Linked DNA regions of Homo sapiens: all the other regions are linked to region 1. Evidence: fine-mapped expression QTL. A gene starts in region 1. Each other region holds a variant in brackets. All regions are shown on one strand. Distances are from middle to middle.

Region 1 (8,075 bases):
CAAATCAACTAAAATTGATAGGCAACAGGAGGCCTGTGTGAATGCTGATCGGCAAAGGAATTATCACATGAACACAAATACTTATTACATTAAGTCACTGCAGGTAGACAAAAACAAACAACAGTTTCAAATATGAGCCTTTATCAAAAGGCACAAGAGTAACTGAATTTTATGTGCCAATGTGCCATCAGGTATTTTTTTCACACCAGTGATGTCAAGTAACTAGCAAAAGGGTAAAGTAAAAGGAGATATTTAAGCAATTAGTTAAATCTCCTGAACCAAATGTGGGATAGCCAACTAGTACAGAATAGCCACCATAGAATATTTTTTAAAGTATAGTACATGAATCTATGTATCATGCAAACAAAGAGAAAACTCACTATTCCTGCACTTTCATCTAACTACTTGCTTTCATGGACCTAAAGAATAGATCCAGTCTCAGTAGTGTATTAATTATAATTTCCAACTTGTTTGGCATTTTATTTAATTTCCAGAAGATGTCATAACATAAATAAAGCATACCTTTCTTCTTCCTTCCTCCTTCCGATCAAAAGCACATTGCTGTTTGCACTGTTCACAGGTCTGAGGTGGTCCATACTTTTTTTCTGAATTTGTGCAACGCTGACACTTGGTACCAATAAATGCTGCAATTATGTTACAGTACTGACAAGGCTTGGGCTGAAAAACATACACATTTTGAGACTTTTAAAAACATTAAATATTTGCGGCATAGCATATACCCAGTGTTGTAGACATATTTCTGGAATTAAGAAAACTCAGGTAAAAAATTTGTTTTCTGTCAAGTTTGTTGCCCTGTCACATGCAATAACTTTTATACCATATTTCTATGCATTCAACTAGTATTTATTTCTAGTCATGTAACTATTACTCTAAGATCGTGAGAAATAGATTTGTGATTTGCATAGTCTGTTAGATAATACAAAAACTACACATAAAAAAGGTTTTAAAGAACGAAAATAAAGGTACATATGTAGAGAAGTCTCATGAATCAAGAATTTGAGGAAACGTCCTTCTACTAATATCCTAGTTACCTTAATGACCATATCATTTATTTAGAAAATGTTAACTTTTCATCACATATAGGTACAAATCATATAAGGAATATATACTGTGAGTTTTCAACTTTGAAAAAATGAGAACAAGCATATTCAACATAAACTATAAAAACATACCTTGATTTTCTTTGATATTCAAAAGATGATTCAGGGCAGTTTAGAGCGTTAAAGTTAGCATTTTTGACCAATAATAAATAATATTGGTATAATATACCTATAATGATTGTAGTATACATATAAGACAATTTGTACTAGGATTGGGTCATGACTTCTGTGAATAAATATCTTTAATTGCGCTGTTTTATAAAAATAGTTCTGAGGAGGCTGTTCTGAAGTGGGCTAAAGTCTGATGATGCAAACTTTATGGATAAGTTCTCCATAACCAAGAATTTGCTATATTTGAATCTCTAAAGAACAGCTTCACAAATTTCACACTGGATTCAATACATGTAAAACAGGTATATAATTTGACTGTTTTTAAATGTTATCACCTTTCCATCAAAGTATCTATAGAAAATGTCTTTCATAAAATATGGTATGTTGAAATATCTAAGAGCATAGCAGTAGTTTTTTTTTTTCGAGACGCAGTCTCGCTCTGTCCCCCAGGCTGGAGTGCAGTGGCAGGATCTCAGCTCACTGCAAACTCCGCCTCCTGAGTTCACGCCATTCTCCTGCCTCAGCCTCTGGAGTAGCTGGGACTACAGGCGCCCACCACCATACCCGGCTCATTTTTTTTTTGTTGTATTTTTAGTAGACATGGGGTTTCACCGTGTTAGCCAGGATGGTCTCCATCTCCTGACCTTGTGATCCGCCCTCCTCGGCCTCCCAAAGTGCTGGGATTACAGGCGTGAGCCACTGTGCCCAGCCAGCAGTACATATTTTTTTAAAAGGTCCAGCTTTATGAAAAATATTAACTGGTAACAATGACATGAAAACATAAGACATACTTACCGTCCCAAATTGCTTCACATTTTGAGCACACTTCTTACAAATTGTGTTAGTTTTGCTGAAAAATAAATTGTATATAGATCATGTTTATGTAGCTTTCTAAAGTAATTAGCACAATGTCAAAATAAAATGAGTCAAAGATTTGTTGTACTTAAAACTTTAATAAGGACCACGGATTTTTTTCAAATATACAAGGATATTTTCAGAGTTGTTTTACCCAAATTAACTTATGACAAATGTTTTTATACATTTTTATTGCATATTACTTTTTGTAAACAAAACATCTTAATGTTTCCTATATAGCTCCAAAATCTTCACACTTGACACTATTACTGCACAGCATTACAATACCAGTGCCTACCTAACCTTCCACTTGGCTACTGTCCAACATTATAATGCCCACACCTATTTATGAAGAAATTATTTGTTCTTTTCTGAGGCTACTTTCTGTATATACTCTCAGAGTGGAACTGTTAAAAATGTTACGTACTACTCCTCTTCTATGTAACAAATTATTAGATTTTCACCTTGGAAGGCAGTTGGTAACACTACAGACCTTTCCTCAGATCCATTAAGGCTTTACCATTTTTTTTTAGTTTAACATAACTGTTTACATTTGCATTTTCATTAGCAAGGCTGTACATTTTCCATGTAGTATTATTCCTTCTCTCATATAAAGTCTAACTGTAAATTAACCACCACTGGTTTTTTTCGCAACATTCTCTCTCCCACCATGTATAAAAGGTTTACAACTTAAAATTTCTGGGGCTAAACCATTTTTTAAAAATACTTTCATAAAAACATGGGATTACAACCCCCAAGTATTCCATAAAGACAACACTTGTCTTTAACAGTCAAAAACTATTCAGTATACAAACCTCTCTTGTTGAAATTCTGATCTGCAGTAAGTACATTTTACAATAGGATGTGCAATCCGACATTCCTGTAATAAGACAATACATTAGTCAGTATCTTTCTGAAAGTCCCAAATCTCACTTTTCTGGTAGAAAACTGTTTACCCAACCTAGTGAAAGTCTAAAACATTTATAAAACCTGGCCCCAACGTAAAGAACTGGATGCTTTATCATATAAGTGGCCAATCACAATATAATTCCTTAGGGAAGGCACAGGTGTCTTTGTCTTTAGTAGACGTGGGGGTATATTACAGACAAATTAAGAAAGCTGTCAGGGCCTATTTCAAGGATTGGTTAAATGTGAAACTACTTATTATTTTGCACCGTTGCTCACAGACAGCATCCAGGCTTTAATGGGATGGGAGGAGCTCCAAATCAGAGCATTCTGTTCCCAAACCAGTCGCTTCGCTTTCCTGGACAGGGAAGAAGGATGCCATCAGCTTTGCGGCTTCGGGTTCCTAGCAAGAAAGTGCAAAAACCGTCCCCTGCCTCCTGGTGGAAGAAGAGGACAGACCAGGCAGAAAACCGAGATGAAAACATCTCCACCCCTGGGTCTCTGCGGCATAGACAGGTGGCTGCCTCACTCAACCCCACTCCTGAGACCCCCAGACGCTGACGGGGCCCGGCACCCTCCTGGGCCGCCTGGAAAAGGGCACGATTCTGCCTCCCTTTCAGGGTCCGTTCCCAGCTAATGTTCAAGCCCCCAGAAAAAGGGGTCCCCGAGTGGGGAGGCGAGGGCTCCAGACTCCCAAACCCCTGAGGCGCCGGCGAAGAGGGGCTGCAGTGCAGCGGCTACCCGGCCCCCTCCGGCTACGGCCGAGGACACCCATCCCGCCCGCCTCCCGGAGCCCACGGACCTTGCAGAGCTGCTGGCCCTGGGAGAGCTCCTCGAAAGGATAACGCTGGGTACACTTGGTGCAGGCGTACAGGGCCGAGGCCGCCATCCTGCTCCTCAGTCTCCTCCTCCGCCGCCGCCCGCTCCGAGGCGGGGCCCTACGGAGAACCCGAGAGCCGCCGCCGCCCGGGCCGCGGGCTCCTCCTCCTCCCCCTCCCCCTGCCTCGCGCCCACCAGGGCCTCGCCGCGAGAGCCCAGGGCCCCGCGGACGACGCCACCGTCTCCCTCCGCCTCCACTTCCGCCCCAGCCCACCCAGTGACGCCGTGCCAGCCGCTCCCGCTTAGGCCCCGATAGCGGCGGAGGGAGACGAAGCGGGTAGGGGGTTGCTGTTTAGCTGTGCGGCCGTGGATCCGCTTCCTTCTCGGCCTCCCTTTCCCATCCCTGATTGGCTGCGAAGGCTATCGCGTCATTCGATGGCTCCTCCCAACTCCCAACTTCCGCGACGCAGGAAGCGCCCACAAAGGGAGGATGTCGCCGGCCAATGACATCCCGGAGCTCTCAGCGCGCGAAATCCGCTTTGAACCTGCCCCGCCCAAAGGTCTGCGGTCGCGGCTATTTCTAACAGCCAGTCCCAGGTTTGGCTGAGAGCGCCCCAATCCAATTGAGCAAATGTTCGCGAAAGGCTCGTTCTCTGCCGCAACTTTTTTTCCCTTGCTTTCTATTGGACTAAATCGTTAAGTCCCTCCTAATCCTATTTGTTATTGGCCAAAAGGTAAATACTTCACCTGGAGAGGCGTCCCCGAGGCAAATTCACGCTCTCTCCGGCGTTTAATCCGAGGGAACTCGTGGAGTGCTTTAACTTCGCCTTCGCTTTTGTTTTATCTCCATTACTCCCTTCAGTTGCCACTGGCGACACCACTACTCGCCCACGCTTCTTACTGGAGGAGGCCCGACCCTCCGTAGAATCCCCGCAGAGCCGGCCTGTAACCCCGGCGTTGTCTGCCCCAGCGGGCCCCGTTACGCGCTACCTTGTGACGTCACCAGGGAAGAGGCGGATTCTCTCCTACTACAGAAAGACGTCTGCTGTTTTGATTGGCTAGGAAAGACGTCCGTTAGGACGTGTTGCCCTTTCTGTGTAAGCTGTGAGCGTAGGCGGCCCTGAGGGGGTGTGTTGCAGGGGTTTCCAAGCCCAGCACCAGCACCCTTGCCCTTTTCCATCAGGGGTTCAGCCTAGGGTCCCCGCTGGTGGGCGGCTCCCGAGTCTTGGAGAAGAGCACGAGAACCTAGACCGCCCCCGAAGTGCGGAGACCCCCTGGGCAGGCTGAAAGATGGCGGCGGCGTCTGTCTCTGCGGCTTCTGGTTCTCACTTGTCGGTAAGAAGCAGTTGGCGCGAGTGGGCCCCACGTCGGCCCTAAGCGCCTCTTTGAGTTTCCTCACGTTTCAGGGCGCTGTCAGTCCAGCTTCTGACGCAATTCTGGAGGTCGGCGGGAATGCCTAGATTGCCCCGCGCTCCCCAAGCTTCCATTCACTGTGGCTGTGTCGAAGCTGCACCCTCTGGCTCCCAGTGAAACTGGGCTGGCCGCCCCTGTTCCCCAGCCCTTATTCACCTTTTGGCGTAGCAACCAACCCCGGTTGCCTAACATTCCCAAGGGCCGGCTGGGATAACTGCCCACTCCCTGGCCTGCAAAAATGTAGCTCTTTTGGTCACGTGGGTTCAGCGGCCCCTCTAGGAAACTCGCCAGATCAGGTGAGGCGCGCCAGTGTGTTTAAGAGACGTTGCAGAATAGTAGTCCGCCGTCTCTCGAGCGCTTACTAGTCGTTGCTTATGCTGTTTCCTATCCCTGCAGTGCCTCCCACTCCCATCCACATTAACTTCGTTGTGTGATGCTCGTAGCCAGAACGCGCGCTTCCTGTCACCTAGAATTACTGGAACTTCAATGTGGAAATGCCCTTTTGGAGAGGCGACAGGGGGAATTGATTTTAAATATTGTTTTCGCCTCATCAAATGTCACCATCCAGTTTAGTTACTGGTATTCACTGGTATTTCTCAAATTGGAGTGTCGAATGCTTAGGTTTTTGAAAACCGCGGCATTGGAAAGCTTTGATAGGAAGTAAATGTTGGAGCTCTTATTTCTCCAGTTAGCAAATGTTCGATGCCTGGTATACTGTTAGGGTCCAAATGAACAGAATAGAAACCCTGCTTTGAAGGAGAAAAACACTGAAGAGAAACTACACGTAATTAGTGATTACTGCGCAGTATAGTTTAGGAAGTGCTACCGTAGTAGAATAATCTAGAGGGGAGTGATTAACAGTGCTTGGGTAGGCTAGAGAAGGTTTCCTAGAAGGGAAGATGGAGCTAGTTGCGTGTCGAAGGAATTGTGATTGCTTGTCCCAAGAGTAGAGAAAGGAGAAAAAGGCAGTGCGGGAATTTTGGAGTATGTGCTAGAACAGTAGGTGCTTTTAGGAAACTTGAGATAGTTCGGAATGAGAAGAAGTAATACGGAGGTAGAGCTGGATGAGGTGAATTGGAAACGTAGGTAAAAACGTGAAAAAAGAAGGATGGTGAGGGAAGGAACTAGAAGAGTATCAGGGTAAAGTTATTTTCTAGGATCTAGGGGGAAAGAGTTGGAAACGCTAAGAAAGCCTGGTCACCTTGGAGAAGTCAGTTTCAGCTTTTGGAGACTTGTTAGAATTTGTAATAATGGGACTAGAAGTATTACAGTGTTTCAGCCGAATGGGAATTAGAAGTTTGCAGAGAGGTCTGGGGAAGTTAAGGAGAAGTAAGGAAAGCAGCAATTTAAGGTTATTCAGGATTAGGTCAGTAAAAGAAAAAAGTAAAAAACTATTGGAAGTGTCAGCAGATGGATGAGATTTTATAGGAGATGTGATTAAACTTGGGAGAAGAGGGCTTTTCACGGCTCTCAAAAGTTAAGCACTTGGAGACCGAACAAGGAATACTCTTACAAATGTTGAATTGAGTCTGGGTGCGTGGCTCATGCCTGTAATACCAGCTACTAGTGAGGCTGAGGCGGGAGGATCACTGAGGCTGAAGTGAGGTATGATAGTGCCACTGCTCTCCAGCCTGGGCGACAGAGCGACCCTGTCTCCATAAAATAAAATATTAAATAAACGTTTAATTGAGCTGCACTATGCCAAGGACACCTAGGTGAGCATTGGCACTGGGATATAGTCAGCTGTTAATACTTATACGGTACCCTTGACAGAAATACCAAAGACTGTTCATTAGGAAAGCATATTTTTTTTGTGCTAAGCTCAGCTTTAATAGGATTCTAAATATCAAGGGTACACTAAGAATATCTAGGAACCTCCACAAATCAAAGTATAACAACCATAACTCAATCTGCTACATCAAAATGTCTATTTTGGAAGTTACTGTTTCTCAAAACAAAAATGACTAAATTTAGTTGGTTTCTTGGTGCGTAAGAAAACGTCCTGCTTAGATGTCCCATCAGAAATAAGGCTGCCATTTCCAACAGCGTTGGAAAAGCACTTAGCTTATCAAACAGCTGATCTTAACAGTAGGCAACATTTAAAAAAAAAAAAACTTGTTAAAACTATACCATGAACTGAGAACACAACTCGTATTCAGATTTCACGGTTATGAAGATTAACAACTGTTATATTCAACTGTTTTCGACATTGATAAACTCATACGGAGCTAGTTATAAGTACATTGAGATGCTTTACAGGCAAAGATTTTTAACAAGTAGATTCATAAATAACCGTCTTTGGGAAGCAGTGACCATGTAAATCTCAAATGTGAACAGCATGGAAGTAGGGCGATAGGTTTCAGTTAGGTTCTAGGTAACGTTTATTGAGTGATTGCTCTGGAATTGATAAACTTCGACTGGTGGAAAAGGCAGGAAAGCAACTATGATTGGGCATAATGAAATTAATTCCATATGGAGGTATGGGCAGCATTGTGTTGAAATACACAAGAATGTCTTTCATGTCAGCCTTGTAATATTTTCACAATAACCTTGGTGATTAATGACCTAATCTCTTGATTTGTCCCTCTGACTTTTGGTCCTTCGACCAAGCTGCACAGTAGCTCCATATTAATTTCCCTTAAAAATGTTTTATGGCTATCATACATTTTATAATATTAAATATAAGATTTACTTTTTGAGAATAATAAAATGAATACCTTCATGTTCCTCTGTGTCTTCTTTCTCCTTCCCACACCCACCCACTACCACGTATTTTAAGATTATAATGTATGGTATTTATATAGGACTACCTGGCAAGGCATAATCCTTAAAGACCCTTTTCATGCATTA
Region 2 (8,075 bases), 34 kb after region 1:
GCCCCAATAGCTATTGACCCAGACCAGTTAACAGAAGCCACCACATGAGGAAAATGAGCTCTACTCTCTCCTACTTTTGGATTTTATCCCATGCAGTGGCCACCAGATAGAATAGGTGAGGCAGTGTGGATTCACAAAAGCATTGAGTTTATATGTACCAACCAGAACTGCATTTCTAGGAGATATATAGCAAGACTACTGAAGTAAGTCTGACTTACAGACTCAGTAAAATAAAATTTTCATGTTTTTAACTGAAGACACTCTCGTTATGAGCGTATTTGCTCAAATTCCTCCCAGATACTCCCCTGCCCCTTCCAGGGTCTTTTATTTTTATGATATTTGCATGTATCTTTTTTCGTAAGAACACAAGAATCAGGTCTCGATTCCAAGGAGTAGAGCCTCTGCAGTTCAATCTGTGACCAAAGGCCTACAATGTCTTGGGCTCACTTCATATATGTGATTACAGGAATATAAAAGTTATCTTTGTTATGTTGTCTATTTCTTCTAGTGCATCTCTAAATTTATTGACTTATTTTGTATTAAATCTGATACAGTTCCTTCTCAAATATTTACCTTCTGATCAATTTGTAGATTTGTTGTTGTTTTCCCTCAGTGTGCTTTCTGAGTTATATAGCCACATGGCTTAATTTTTGACCAACAAAATTTCTTTGCCCATTTTCTCTTTAGGGTTGGCCACTTCACTGTGTTTCCATTTCCATACTTGTAACAAACAAACTTGTGGGTTGTGCTTTATTATATGCATTGTGGTGTTGAGTACATTATATATGAAATACAAAATTTAGTAAGTTCCTTATTTAATGAATTTTTAAAATTATTTATGGTACTTCTATTTTCTCCTTCATTTAGCAGGCAACACATAGGGACCAAATTAGATGTTGCTGGTAATATGTTACCAGTAAATATTTTGAGTTGATGGTGAATATTATTGTACTGAAAGAACAATGAGGGATAGATGTGTGGTTCCAAGTCTAGTGTTGGGCAAGTTATATAACTATTCAGAGTCTGGATTTTTATCATTGTTAAAGAGTGGTCTGCTGAGGTCAGGAGTTTGAGGTCAGGAGTTTGAGCCTGACCAACATGGTGAAACGCTGTCTACTAAAAATACAAAATTGGCCGGGTATGGTGGTGCATGCCTGTAATCCTAGCTACTTGGGAGGGTGAGGCAGGAGAATCGCTTGAACCTGGGAGGTGGAAGTTGCACTGAGTTGAGATCACACCACCTGCATTCCATCCTGGGCAACAAGAGCAAAAAAAAAAAAAAAAAACAGTGTTCTGCATTTTGCATCTTGGTGTTGGTGTGATCAAATGAGAATAAAAAATAATGAAAGTGCTTTAAAATGTTTTAAAACTGTAGCACAGAAATATACAGCTGCTGGGAAGAATAAATAAACTGGAAGTTAAAATACTCAAAAAAAAGTTCTTGTATACTGTTTACACTCATTGGCATCATAAGTCTTCTAGAGTAGTAATTTCCTGTTCATTGAATTGTGTCTAGTCAATTTACTATATATAAAGCAATGTTAGGTGTGTTTGGAGTGTATAGATGCTTCCTGAGGGTAGAGATTCCTGTATTCCTTTGTCATGGAATAGATTTTTTACCCCAAAGCTGCACTCATGTGGGAAGTATTAGTAATAATCTTAGTATCTGTTTTTATGGAATCCAGTGGTTCTGAATATTTGTTCTAGCTCCATTATAATTTCCTGGGGAACTCTTAAAATACTTTAAAATATGAATTTCCCCAATCTGGAAAGGCCAAAATCATGAGATCTGGACAGGCACCTGGCAGTCCAAATTGTCCTCATAAACTGCAGACAGTTTTGGTACATATAGGCAGATTTGAAACAAACACTATTCCAGACAGGTTTTTTGTTTTGTTTTGTTTTGTTTTTTTAAAAAGGAAAGTTGAAAGTTGGCTTAGTGAAAAGAGCAGTCCTTTTTTGAAATTCTTAGTGCTTGTGGAATTTCTACCATGAAGATAGGTTATTTTTAAATTAGTATAGTTACTCAGCTTCTAGAGAAAAGGGCTTGGTAACATTTGCCTGATAGCTTCCAGTGTTTTTTGTTTTTTGTTATTTTTTTGGATATAAGTTTTCAATTCCTTTTTCTTATATAGTAAGTGCATGGCTTTTTAGAAAGGGAAGAAATGTATTCTGCTCTTCGGCTGTTTTGTGTCTGGTAATGTAGTAGATGCCATTTTTGAAAAGAATATATTTAAGCAATGGTTTGGGGTTAGATACATTGCATTTAACTCGTTAGATAGAATTTATGGAGTAACTACAAATACTGGAGATAATGTGTTCCACGCTGAAGAAGGGACAAATTATAACAGAAGGTCAAGATAAAATGAGAGACTGGTATTTATTTAAAATATTTGACAAACGTTGATAGATTGGTTCAAGACATAGTTATACAGCTGTAATATGTTTTTCAGTTAGATACTACCATTGGTTTTTACAGGCTTTTTACATGACACATCTGAAATCTGAGTCATAGCTTTTATTTCTACAGCATTAACTTGAGGCTCTCATTTTTCCTAGTTGCAGACTGGTCTAGAAACAAATAGACTTATCTTTGAAGATAAGGCAACTCC[G/A]TGTGTTCCCAATGCAAGAAGAATTAAAAAAAAGAAGTCAAAACCACCAGAAAAGGTGTGAAGACAGAACCAAATCAGGCAAAATGCTGATTACTTGGTATAGTTTATGTCAAAACACCCATAAACTGTGTGGTGTACTACAACCTTGAGAGAGTAAATCTTTCATTCTCAATTTCTTCATTCAGAAGGTGGAGATAAGTAATACCTACTCCTAAATTTTTATCCTGATAGTGAGAAAATATATAAGCATTTTGGAACTACAGAACACCATACAAAATTAGCATTATTAGTACTGCATTATCTTGTGCTCTTACAATGTTTTGTGTATATGTATACTGATTTTCTACTTAGAATGTAACTGTTGTTTTGTCAAGTGCTTTTTTCCCCCCAGCCTTTCCTAGGCTAGGATATATGCTAACAAGTACTATTAGGAGCTGGCTTGTGATCATAATGCCAACTATAGATAAGGCAAGTAGTAGCCTAGTAGTTAACTGAAGTTTCAAGTTAGTCATGTATAGTCAGTTTTTATTATCATGTGAATAAAATAAAATTGTTTTCCTTTTCTTTTCATTCAGAAAAGTTCTAGGAACTATTTTGGTGCACAACCACATTATAGATTATGCTTGGGTGATATGCCATTTGTAGCTGGGAAGGTGAGTTGGTCAAACTCCGGATTCTTTTTATACAACATTGATCCCTGAATTAAGTCCCTGCATCTGCAAGTATGTCTACAAATGGAAGGAACATTTTTCTGTGCCTTTACCAGTGTGTGGATCACAGTGATGTGAAAATGAGATGTAGGGAGGTTTTTGGGGATTAGGGAAGCAAGGAAGAGATGGGGAGGATACCTTAAAGTAGATAAAGTATATGTGGAAAGGAAGTGATAAAACAGAGACCCTAAGTTGAAGAAGGTGTTGTTTCAGATAGGGGTCAAGGAAATAAGAAATAGTATGTTTGTAGCATTGGATTTTTAGTATCAATCCTGTTGAGTTACATTTAGATATAGGTAGATATTCGAATAAGCACGTAGCACATTCTGCTTGTCCTCACATCCAGATCATTTCTAGGACTAATTCTCCAAGAAGCAGTCATACGTACACTTGAATCTTCAGTTTCTTCAGCACTTGAATGTAAAGCTGTATTGTCATATATCAAGTACTGAGTGAAGTGCCTAAAACTGTGCTAGTTGACACTACTTTATAAGCTGTTTGTGTTGCTGGTGGTTTTATATTTAGATTCCAACTAGATTGTTATTCTGGCATCTTGGGAAGTAAATGTTCTTCTGAATTTTGTATTTGTTTATATTTATTTATTTTAAACCCCTAGTAAATTCGCAGTGAAATCATGGGGAATATAATAAATTAGTGGTGACAAGCATTTGAAAAAGGTACAGTTGACCCTTGAACAACATGAGTCCGAACTCTGTGTGGGTCTACTTACAGGCAGATTTTTTTTTTCAATAAGTATCTTGGAAAATTTTTTGGAGATTTTTGGCAATTTGAAAAAACTTGCAAACTATAGCTTAGAAATATCAGAAGTTAAGAAAAAGTTGGTATGTCATAGATGCATAAAATTGACTATGTCAATACTAGTGCATTTTATCATTTACTACCATAAAATATACACAAGTTTTTTTTAATTATAATTTATCAAAACAATTTGCACACAGACTACGTGACGCCATTCACAGTCCAGAGAAATGTAAACAGAGATAAAGATGCAGTATGAAATCATAACTGTATAAAATTAACTGTAGTACATACTGTACGACTGATAATTTTGTAGCCACCTTCTGTTGCCATTGTGATGAGCTCAAGGGTTGGGAGTATTCACTTAAAATGCCACGTGACGCTAATCATCTTCAAATGAGCAGTTCATCTCTCCAGTCAATTGTGTATCACAGTAAAAAGTGTTCTCTAGCAGTTCCATATTTTCCATCATGTTTAGCACAATACAGTAAATAATTTGAATAATATCATGGGACCCATATCAAGTGCTACTAATGATGGTGGAAGTGCTCCCAAGAAGCAGACAAAAGTCATGACATGACAAGAAAAAGTTGCATTGCTTGATATGTACCATAGATTGAGGTCTGCAGCTGCGGTTGTCCACCATTTCAAAATAAATGAATCCAGCTGAAGGCCTATTGTAAAAAAAAAAAAAAAAAAAAAAATGATCCCGGCATGTTGGCGTGCACCTGTGGTCCCAGCTACTCAGGAGGCTGACAGAAGAGGATCACTGTAGCCCAGGAGTTCGAGACTGTAGTAAGCGATGATGGCACCACTGTACTCCAGCATAGGCAACAGAGTAAGATCCTCTTTAAAAAATTTTTTTTAAAAAAAAAAGGAAATTGTGAATCTGTCACTGCAGCTACTCTAGCAGGTGCCAAAACCTTGTGCTTTTTGCAAAATAGCTTTTTATCTCATTGAAAATGCAGCTTTTATGTGGATGCAGGATTGCTATAAGAAAGGCATACTTGTAGACTCTAATATGATTTGAGAAAAAGGAAAGTCATTATATGACAACTTAAAAGGAAGGTGAGGTATCTAAAGCTGGAGAATTTAATTCCAGCAAAGGATGGCTTGATAATTTTAGAGGTTTGGCTTTAAAAATGTCAAGATAGGAGAAGCAGCTTCTGCTGACCAAGAGGCAGCAGATGAATCCCAAGATACCATTAAGAAAATCATTGAGGAGAAAGGGTATCTTCCTGAACAGGCTTTTAATGCAGACAGAAGTACCCTATTCTGGAAAAACATGATGCCACGAAGGATATTTATAAGTAAGGAGGACAAGTCAGCACCAGGATTTAAGGAAAGAGGAGACGGGCTAAATCTACTATTTTGTGAAAACACAATCCGATTTACAATCAGGACTGCCCTTATCTATAAAGCTGCTAATCCCTGAGCCTTCAAGGGGAAATATACCCAACTGCCAGTCTTTGGGTTTACAACAAGAATGACCCTTTGAGAACCCTTTTTCTAAACTGGATTTAGAAAAAACATTGATCCATCAATCCTTTGTCCCTGAAGTCAGGAAGTAATTTGCCAGTAAGAGACTGCCTTTTAAAGTCTTTTTAATACTAGGCATTGCCCCTAGCTACCCAGGAGCATGGAAGTTCAACACCAAAGGCATGGAAGTAGTCTACTTGTCCCTAAACACAGTGTGTCTAATTCACCCTCTGGATCAGGGAGCATAAGGACTTCTAAGGCACATTACATACACTATAAAAAGGGTTCTTAATGCTGTGGAAGAGAACTTCAGAGAGAACATTATGAGGGTCTGGAAGGATTACAGTTGAAGATGATGCCATCATTTTTATAGAAAAAGTCATGAAAGCCATCAAGTCTGAAATAATAAATTCCTGTTGGAGAAAACTCTCCAGGTGATATGCATGATTTCACAGGATTTATGACAAAGCCAATCATGAAAAAGATGGTAGATATGGCAAAAAAGGTTGGAGGTGAAGGATTTCAAGATACGAATTTTGGAGAAATTAAAGAGTCAGTAGACACCATGATAGAGGAATTAACAGAAGATGACTGGGATGGATAAGAGTGCTTTCAAACCAGTGCCACAAGATGAAGAAGACAACACAGAAGTAATGTCAGAAAACAAGTTGACATTAGATAATCTGACAGAAGGGTTCTAATTATTCAAGACTGCTTTTGACTTTTTTTTTTTTTTTTTTTTTGAGACGGAGTCTCGCTCTGTCACTCAGGCTGGAGTGCAGTGGCACGATCTCAGCTCACTGCAACCTCTGCCTCCTGGGTTCAAGCAATTCTCCCACCTCAGCCTCCCAAGTACCTGGACAACAGGCACGCGCCACCATGCCTGGCTAATTTTTGTATTTTTTTAGTAAAGACAGGGTTTCTCCATGTTGGCCAGGCTGGTCTCGAAATCCTGACCTTAGGTGATCCACCTGCCTCAGCCTCCCAAAGTGCTGGGATTCTGTAATCCCACTGTAATCCCAGTGGCTGAGCCACTGCGCCCAGCCTGCTTTTGACTTTTACGACATCGACCCTTCTATGATACATCACTGAAACTAAAACAAATGGTGGAAGAATTGGTATCTCATAGAAACATTTTTAGAGAAATGAAAAAGCAGAAAAGTCAAGACAAATTATAGTGTATTTCTGTAAAGTTACACAGAATGTGCTAGCCTCTCCTGCCTCCCCCTCCACTTCTTCTGCCTCTGCCACTCCTGAGACAGCAAGACCAACCCTACCCTTCTGCCTACTCAACAGTGAAGATAATGGGGATGAAGGCCTGTATGGTGATCCAGTTAATGAATAGTAAATATACTTTCTCTTCCTTAGGATTTTCTTAATATTTTTTTCTAACTTTACTTTTAGAATATTGCTTACAATACATAAAACAAAAATGCTTCCAGTCAACAGCAGGCTATTACATTTTAGGGCAAAATTTATTATAGTTCTCAGTTACATAAGTGGGAGCTGAATGATCAGAACCCATGGACACATAGTGGGGAACAACATACACTGGAGCCTGTTTGGTGGGGGAGTTGGTCAACGGGGAGGGAGAGCATCAGGAAGAGTACCTAATGGATGCTGGGGTTAATACCTAGGTGATGGGTTGATCTGTGCAGCAAACCACCATGACACACATTTACCTATATAACAAACCTGCGCATGTACGCCAGAACTTAAAAGTTGAAGGAAAAAAAAATTTCATTATGGCAGAGTTTTGACTACATGGGTGGTCGGTGCCCCTAACCCCTCCATTGTTCAAGGGTCAAGTGCATATTAATATAATCAGAAAAATAACAGAACGAGAATTTTTTAAATTATTGCATATTGAAAGTGTACTCATAGGCAATTAGTATGCTAAATATATATTACAAGTTACGAGCAAAATAGTGGTTACATCGATTGATTTTTGAATAGTGGACCAGCCTTGCATTGATGTAATAAACTCCCACTTGGATGTGATATATAATACTGCTGCATTCACTTTGCTAGCTAACAATAGAAACTAAGATTAGAAGGAAAGCATATGTTTAGCTTAGCATGGTGGTTCCAAATCTGGCTAATCAAAATCAACTGGAGGACTTGAAAACACAAATTTCCAAACCCTAACTCTGCAGTGAGTTTGGTGTGCTGCCTAGGAACCTGCATTTTAAATATGCTTTCTAATAATATTTATGGAGCCAAGTAAGCCCAGCCATCTATTTATAAAGTGGAATAGTACATTGAGATTGTTGGTTTAGTGTTTAAAACAAAAGCAAAATATCTTTGAGAAGTCTATCAGGTTTTTCTTACACACGTGATAGACATGTAATTTAGTGCTTCCTATTATTCCAGGATACAGAAATGAACAATAGTGTCTACCACCTGGATGTACACTGTTTAATAGGTGAAATAGATATGTAAAAGCAATTAAAATATGATAAATGCTATGAGAGAGATGTAAAAAGTGTTATAGGTGATCTGATAATGGACTGAT
Region 3 (8,075 bases), 24 kb before region 1:
TTTAAAGCTAAGATGTCTTCTTTTCCATAACTGAGGACTGCTGTATGCCAGCCATTTGCAGTAGGTGGGGAGAGAGGCCCTGGTCATTCTCTTCCCCTACTTGGCATTTGTCCTCTTCCTCCAGCTTGTATTTCTGGCCCAGCTAGTGCCAAAGCAGGGGGAAGCTGGAGCAGTAAAGAAGTGGGAATTTTTACTGAAATGGTGTTATTATAATATAGCTTCACTCTCTGAATTTGGCAAATGTTTGGAGCTGATTCCTTCTCTTGTGATGGGATGGGTAGCTGGATTGGTGCTTTTATGTGTTCTTTTGAGATCTCCCTCCAAGTCACTGAGAACTTTTTATTGTACTTTCCATAGCATGGACATTTTCCTATGGCTCACCGCTCCCCTAAAAGCTCAGGTTTTATCTCAACTATTCAATTAAAGACTTTCTGCTGGAACTCCCTCACTTCTCACTTCCCACCCACCCAAAGCCATCATCTTGAGCAAAATTTAGAATAACTCCAAGCCAGATACATCATATTCCCAATTGGACACAATATTCATATATCCTTGACTCAATAATCTCTGAGGATGGACGACGATCTCAATGCGATGGCATTTTCTTTGTTGGTACCATCAGAAAAGCTGGCCAGCTATGCCAGATTTTAGATTTTTCAGGGGCAGTTGGACACCAGACCATGTTGTCCCCGACCAGAGACATGGAATTTAACAAGTTCTTCAGGTGAATTCATTGAAAATCTTTACTTCTGGTGGGGAAAACACCCCAAACCTACCTCCTTGGATAGACAGGAAGGGCTTACATCTCATCTCTCTCCAAATCTTTTCCTGGGTACCACTCTCAACCTCTTTAGCCCCTCAGTTCTGGTGAGGGAATAAGAATTGTGTCCTGAGTTTTCAGCTACCTCCGTTTTGCAAGTTTCTGAGTGTGGCTCACCTCACCTTGGTATCTATTGGTACCTTGCTGTCTCAATCATGAATTTTAATCTCATATCCTATGATAAGTGATCTGTATGCCCAAGCTGAATTCACAGCCCTATTTCCAAATAAAATGTTTGTTTTTCACTCCTTTTCAAATGCTCCTAAAGCTTTTCTTACTCTAGTACTTTGAGATAAGTATATGGAAAGCCTAGCTATTGAGGTAACAGAAAACGTGCATTTTGTTTTAAAAATAAGTCATATTACAAAATCCTCCTACTTCTTTACTCAAAGGAAAAATTAAATACGGACAAATGCCCTTTTATCCCTCCACTCTATAAAACTACTCACATACTTATAGTCTAGGAAACAGGCCACTTCATTGACATAGATGATCAGAAATTGTGGGCCCATCTTGGTAACCATAGGAGCAGGCAGCTGATGACATCAGAGGCCTGCATTGCGGCTTCTGATTGCTCAGAGTTGCTATGCTGAAGGAAATCAGAAGGTGATGTAAGGAAAACACCATATTAAATACATTTCATTCCATTTGAGAGGCACTTGGAAATGATTTCTAAAATTCTCTAAATTCCTGCAGCCATTTTTAAACCTTCCATTTGAATAAAATGTATATTGCAAAAAGAACTTAAGACAATTTGAAAATAAGAATGCAGACTTCATTTAGCATATATATACACACAAACACATATTATATATATATTTACTGGTTATGAGTTTTGACTGTTAGTTTGACTATAAAAGCACCTAGCTACAGAATGGTTATGCCATGACCCCAGACTAAGTCACACTTGTATTAAAAGTCATTTTAATATAAACAAAAGTTGGATGCAGTAATTATGCTGGCTTGGTGTTTGGTTTTATTTCTTTTATTTTTATTTTTTGAGACGGAGTTTCACTCTTGTTGCCCAGGCTGGAATGCAATGGTGCGGTCTCGGCTCACTGAAACCTCCGCCTCCAGGGTTCAAGCGATTCTCCTGCCTCAGCCTCCCGAGTAGCTGGGATTACCAGCATGTGCCACCATGTCCAGCTAATTTTGTATTTTTAGTAGAGATGGAGTTTCTCCATGTTGGTCACGCTGGTCTCAAACTCCTGACTTCAGGTGATCCACCCGCCTCAGCCTGCCAAAGTGCTAGGATTACAGGCGTGAGCCACCACACCCGGCTGGTGTTTGGTTTTTGTATGAACTCCACTTTTCCCAGTGCCCCACCTTCCTTTCAGCTACTTTCCAGGTTTCTCAGGTTACCTTCTCACTGCTGTTCCACCTCATCGTTTTCAGTTTCAGTCATCACTTTTCAGGTATTTTCTAAACTGTACAGTTTTTCTAGCTGCATTGATAAAAGAGGGGGTCACAACAGAAGGTGAATGGTCCAGCCCTTATGAACCCTTGATGTCCCAGTAGACATTGTTCCATGAATAATAGGGGAGGCCTAATAATCCTCTTGAAGAAAAATTCATGTCACATAGAATGTGCAAAAATGAGCAACATCTACAAAGAACGATCATTTAGGAGGCATTTAATACATGCGATGGCTTGATTCAAAGCCTATTTCTAGCCCAGGGGGTAATCCAAGCCTCAGCCTTGGTTTCATGGCTGCACAGGTTGTGTACTGTAGAATTCCAGGCTTCCAGGGGTGCATTGACAATGAAAAGCTCAATAATGCAGTGCCCATGTCATGTCTCTCTAGGAGACAATGGCTTAGTTGGAGATAGTAGGCTTCTGATTTAGAATTGATGATTTCTTAACCTATTATGTTACCCCTGGGTATACTGGGTGCAGGAACTTCCTCACAGATAGATGAAGGAGGGACCAAATAAATGTTGCACCTAGTGCATCAGTAGGACTGGATTTAGAGGGAAAGAAATGTGCACAAAAAAATCCAGTATGGAAATCTTTAAAGCAACTCCTTAAAATAGTATTTGCAAATTCAAAAACAATCCATTCAAAGACAAAATTATATTTTAAAACTCACTTTTATCGAATGGAAAAAAAAATGTACACTGGAATTGTGAAAAATAAATTGCATCTGAAAATGGGTTACCGTACATAATGAAACATTGTTACAAAGAGTATGAGGATGCTTGCTCTGATTACAGTGACTCCTGTAACAACGTGGCAAGTGAAAATACTGTATTATTTAGTAGTGAAGCCCTCCCCCTAGTGGAAATAGGTAGGAATTTTAAGAAAAAGGGTTAACACTTTTAAATACATTTTATTTCCTCTTAATATTTACAGAATTAAAGAAAAGAGGTGGAGAATAGCTGTAGTGTGGTATAAAGACTTTTCTTACAGGGCTTTTAGGCCATTATAAGAGCTGAGATGTAAAACTATTTTAGAGTTTTGAGTAGAGCAGCTGGTATGGTCTGAATGTTTGCATTCCCTCCCAAATTTATATGTTTTATTTTAATCACCAAGGTGATGGTATTAGAAAGTGAGGCCTTTTGGAGATGATTATGTCATGAGAAATCTGATCCAATGAATGGGATTAGTGCCCTTAAAAAAGAGGCCCCAGAGAGCTGCCTTGCCCTTTCCACCGTGTAAAGACACAGCAAGAAGGTTGTTTATGAGCATGGGTCCTTATCACACACAGAATCTACCAATTCCTTGATCTTGGACTTCCCAGCCTCTGCAACCATGAGATATAAATTTCTAATGTTCATAAGCTACCGAATCTAAGGTGTTATGTTATAGCAGTGCCAATGAACTAAGCAGGGGTTCTCAACCCTCGGCTGAGACTACTGACATTTTCAGTTAACAAATTCTTTATTGCATAGGGCTGTTTCGTGCATTGTCGAATATTTGGCAGCATCCCTGGCATCCACTCACTTGATGCTAGTAGCAACCTCTCCCCAACCCCACCAGTGTGATAATCAAAAATGTCTCCGGACATTGCCAAATATCCCCAGGGGAGCAAAATCACCCTCAGTTGAGAACCACTGGAATAGAGGGATAACATGACATGACATCTTTTAATAGGATCACTCTTTGTTGAGAACAGACTGCAGACAACAGAGATACCAGTTAGGATTGGAGATGACAAAAAAAAAAAAAAAAAAAAAAAGGTCAAACTTGAAGTTAGAGCTTGCAGAACTTTTCAAAGAACAGCCATGAAGTGGGAGAAAAAGAGTCAACAATATCATCAAGGATTTTGGCCTGTAACAACTAAAATTGAGTTGCCATTATCAGAGATGGGAAGATAGCAGAGTGGCTGCCTTGGTAGTTGTTTGGACTGGGGAGTGCAGATAAAGAGTACATCATTTTGGACGTGTAAAACTTGAGAGCCTTTGTAAGACACCCAGATGGAGATACCAAGTTTCATTGAATAGAAATTCTGGAAATTAGGGGGAGAGGTCTAGGCCGTTACTGTAAGTTTGGGAGTCATTAGGCTTATAGGTAATATTAATGAGTTTACCAAGAAAGCAAAAAAAGAGCCCTGAGCAACTCCAACCATTCCATGTAAGGGATAAGAGAAGGAACCAACAAAAGAAACTGAAAAGCATCACGAAAGGTAAGGGGTTAAAAAACGAAACAAAACAAACAAACAAAAAAAACAGGCAAATGTGATGTTCTAGAAGTCATGAACCTTTGGACATTTTTTCTCTTTACACAAAATGGTTTCATCTTAGTAAGTCCCTCCCTAATGTAAACATTTGTGAATATCTATACTTTATTATACTTTCTGCAATGATTTATTTACCTAGCTGTCTCTTCTAGATTATGAGCTCCTGGGAATAAGATTTATCTTTGCATCTTTGTAGTAATTAGCATAGTGACTGGTGCATAGCAGCACATAACACATGTTCAACTGATAATTAAATTTAACAGGAAATTCACCTCCCTGAAATGAAAATGTCTATACAGTAAGATATCACTCATTGAGATTCTCAATTAAAAATTAGCAAAAACTCAGATATAATTCAAATAACTGTGACATTTAAATTATGTCGCATCAAGGATCAAGGACACAGTACCAGCATCTGCCATGTTTGATCCTACTATGAAAGGGATACCAATCCTTGCCTCGACGTCAACCAGTGTATCAGCTTTTGTTTTATATATTGGGACTCTTGATAAGATTTTATTTAAAAAAAAAAGTTTCCATGGCTGAAAACTATGATGCCATTAATCAACCCTAATAGAATTTTCATCGACTGCATCAAGGGACATGCTCCAAAGTTGAAAAGGTAGTTAGCCTTTATATTACCTTATGTATTATTTTTAATTGATTAAAAGTCATATTATAAATCTATTATTATATTATGTAAAGTGCTTTGTGTATCAATACTTTACCTTAATGTTCATTAATAACTCTGTAATTACACAGATGAGGAAACTGAAACTCAGAGATATTAAGTACACCTCCAAGACACCTAGCTAGCAAATGGCAAAGTGGGATTTGAAACCTGACATTACACTAAAAAGTCGTCTTAAATATTTAATAGTGGTCTTAAATGCCTCACATGCACAGCTATGAAATGACAACAAATAATCGCTGTTGTTGTTTTAGTGTGGAAATTGTTTTTGTTAAGTAGGGGGAGAAAGGAAGAATGGAAACAGGAACCAGAATTACATTGTGGCATGATCATAGCCATTACTCACAATGCTGCAAGAAAACATATAAAACAGAAACAAATATGTCACCTGGGAGAACTGTGAGTGGTTTTTTCTTTTTTCTCCTGATTTTTGTGCTGTGCATTTTTTTTTTCAATAAGCATGTATTGTT[C/T]AAATTGAGCGTAACTTGGCAGGCAGGGGTGATGGTGGTAGTGTTACTTGTTATTAAGAAAAAATTTACACAAAAGTTGAATATAGTATAATAAACCACCATATAACTATCACCCAGTTTCAAAAATTAACAACTCACACCCAATCCTGTTTCATTTATATTCTCGTATCTCCCTCCCTATACTATTTTGAAGCAAATACCAATCATCATACCATTTCATTATAAATATTTTAGTAGGTGTCTCTAGGACTCTAAAAAGATAGCTGCAACACCATCATCACATCTGAAAAGTTAACAGTACTTAATTCCTTAAAATCATTACATAACCAGTGTTCAAATTTTCAGTTCTCATACATGTTAAAAATTTTTAATTTCTTGATTCCAGATCCATATCAGGGTCACATATTGTGACTGGTTTATATTAAGTACCTTTTATACTATAGGTTCTCCCTCCACTGATTCCCTCTGCTTGCAACTTATTGAACAACTGTGCCAACTGTATCCTTTTGGTGTCACTCAACATGATCTTCCATCCTTTCTATTTTTGGTTAATTGGTAGATGCTTCGTCAGATTTAGGTTTGATTCTTTTTGGCAAAACTTTATAGGTAGCAGTGTATTCCTCCATCAGAAAGCACTTAAGAATGTGTTTGTGTATTGTCAGTAGCTGCTGATGACCAATCCTTAACTCCATGAGAGGTTGCAAAATAGTGATGTTGCAATTCCATCCTTCCTTTTTCATTAGAATGTTTTAAAGAGAAACTACCCCCCATCTACTACTTACCTACCCAATGGTATAGTTTGTATGGGAAATGCAGGGAATATTAAAATGATAGTTCTCAAAATGTGAGCTCTGGGCCAGAAGCAGCATTACCTGAGAACTGAGAACTGAAAATTCTTAGGCTCCATCCCAGACCCACTGAATCAGAAAACTGGGGATAAGGTCCAGCAACATGTGTTTATCATGCCCTCCAGGTAACTCTGATGTATACTAACGTTTGAGAAACAAGGGACTACACCTGAAGTCTTGAAATGCCCTTGCTAAAAGCTGTTAGCTTTTACTACACTTTATAATACCAAAGTTAGGTTCCAGATTTTTTCCCAAGCACAGTATCTGCCCACCTAGTCTACAAATGAAAGAATCACACCTTCAACTTTTAACTTATCAAACAATCTAGCATGGTACTAGTCATGTTCCAAAGCTTTCAAAAACTTAACTATAGCTTGAAATACTTGCTCAATTAGATGCAAATTTATTTCTTCCAGGAAAAATAACTATTGCACTAAAGTGGTCTGAATGGACAGACAGGAAAATAGTTTCTAATGTTTGGCCTAAACTTCTCTCATGTATCTGTTGTTTCAGGGTTTCATACTGGAAAAAGGGGGTAAAATGTAGATGAAGCTATGTAGGCTCAATAATGGTCCCCCAATATGTCCATGCCCGAACCCTTGGAACCAGTGAATACATTACCTTATATGACAATAGGGACTTTGCAGATGTGACTAGGTTAAGAACTCGAGATGGAAAAACTACGTTGTTTGTGCAGGTGGAGCCAATAATGTTCTCATAAGGTCCTTATGAGAGGGAACAGAGGGAGACACTCTGAGAAGGTATGATGACAGCAGCAGAGAGAGATTTGAGATGCTACAATTTGGGCTTTGAAGATAAAGGTCAATGAGCTCATAGCATGCAAGGAATGCAGCTCTAGAAGCTGGAAAAGGCAAGAAAACAGATTTTCCCCTACAGCCTCCAGAAAGAAGCAATCCTGCCAATACCTTGACTTTAGACCAGTAAACCTGATTTTGGACTTCTGGCCTCCAGAACCATAAAAGAATTAATTTTTGTTGTATTAAGACACTAAGTGTGTGGGAGTTTGTTACAGCAGCCATTGAAAACTAATACAAAGCCTTTGACAAGTTTTTTATTGTGAAATATTGGATCTAGAAAAAAGTACAAAATGTCAACAGTCAGATGTGTACAAGTACAGTATTTCAATAGTCTATACATGTGAACAGCTTAACAGGTTCACTGCAGAATGCATATTTAGACCAATATAATCTAAAAAGGACTGCAATATTCACAGGCTATTAATACATAAATAACTTGAGTCAAAATGACCCTTACTGGTAAATGCTAATTAATAGTGGAAAACAGGCTAAAAGCACAATACACCACACCATAGTATCTCCTTACAGGTCCACATTTAAAGAATATCAGTTTATTATGTCAAAACACTACAGAGATCCAGGACTGGGACTGAATTACTAATTTATACAATTGCAAAAAAATTTAAGTTATAAAATAAGGTCATGGAATAAAGAAGGGTATTTAATTAGGACTAAATACTGTGAAGCCCATGAAAGGGTTTTAGCCTTGGAATTTACAAAGCTAAATTATTAGACTGTTAATGTTAGCT

What was found.
Region 2: its variant is fine-mapped to the expression of CEP57 in whole blood (TOPMed, PIP 0.91).
Region 3: its variant is fine-mapped to the expression of CEP57 in nasal epithelium (TOPMed, PIP above 0.99).

Annotation. Positions count from the first base shown.
Region 1 is chr11:95,785,597-95,793,671 of GRCh38, forward strand. It overlaps CEP57 (centrosomal protein 57), which reads left to right and starts at 4,902. Exons shown (of 11, transcript NM_014679.5): 1 at 4,902-5,147. The coding sequence starts at 5,103. It overlaps FAM76B (family with sequence similarity 76 member B), which reads right to left and starts at 4,186. Exons shown (of 10, transcript NM_144664.5): 1 at 3,796-4,186; 2 at 2,903-2,967; 3 at 2,028-2,082; 4 at 523-678. The coding sequence starts at 3,882. RefSeq lists a silencer at 3,794-4,213 and enhancers at 4,714-5,183, 5,147-5,810.
Region 2 is chr11:95,819,312-95,827,386 of GRCh38, forward strand. CEP57 (centrosomal protein 57) reads left to right here. Exons shown (of 11, transcript NM_014679.5): 7 at 2,560-2,667; 8 at 3,188-3,265. Among named protein-coding and RNA genes, the nearest start is that of CEP57, 33 kb to the left of the region's middle. The variant G/A (reference allele first, on the strand shown) is at 2,613.
Region 3 is chr11:95,761,389-95,769,463 of GRCh38, forward strand. FAM76B (family with sequence similarity 76 member B) reads right to left here. Exons shown (of 10, transcript NM_144664.5): 10 at 7,565-8,075. Among named protein-coding and RNA genes, the nearest start is that of FAM76B, 24 kb to the right of the region's middle. The variant C/T (reference allele first, on the strand shown) is at 5,661.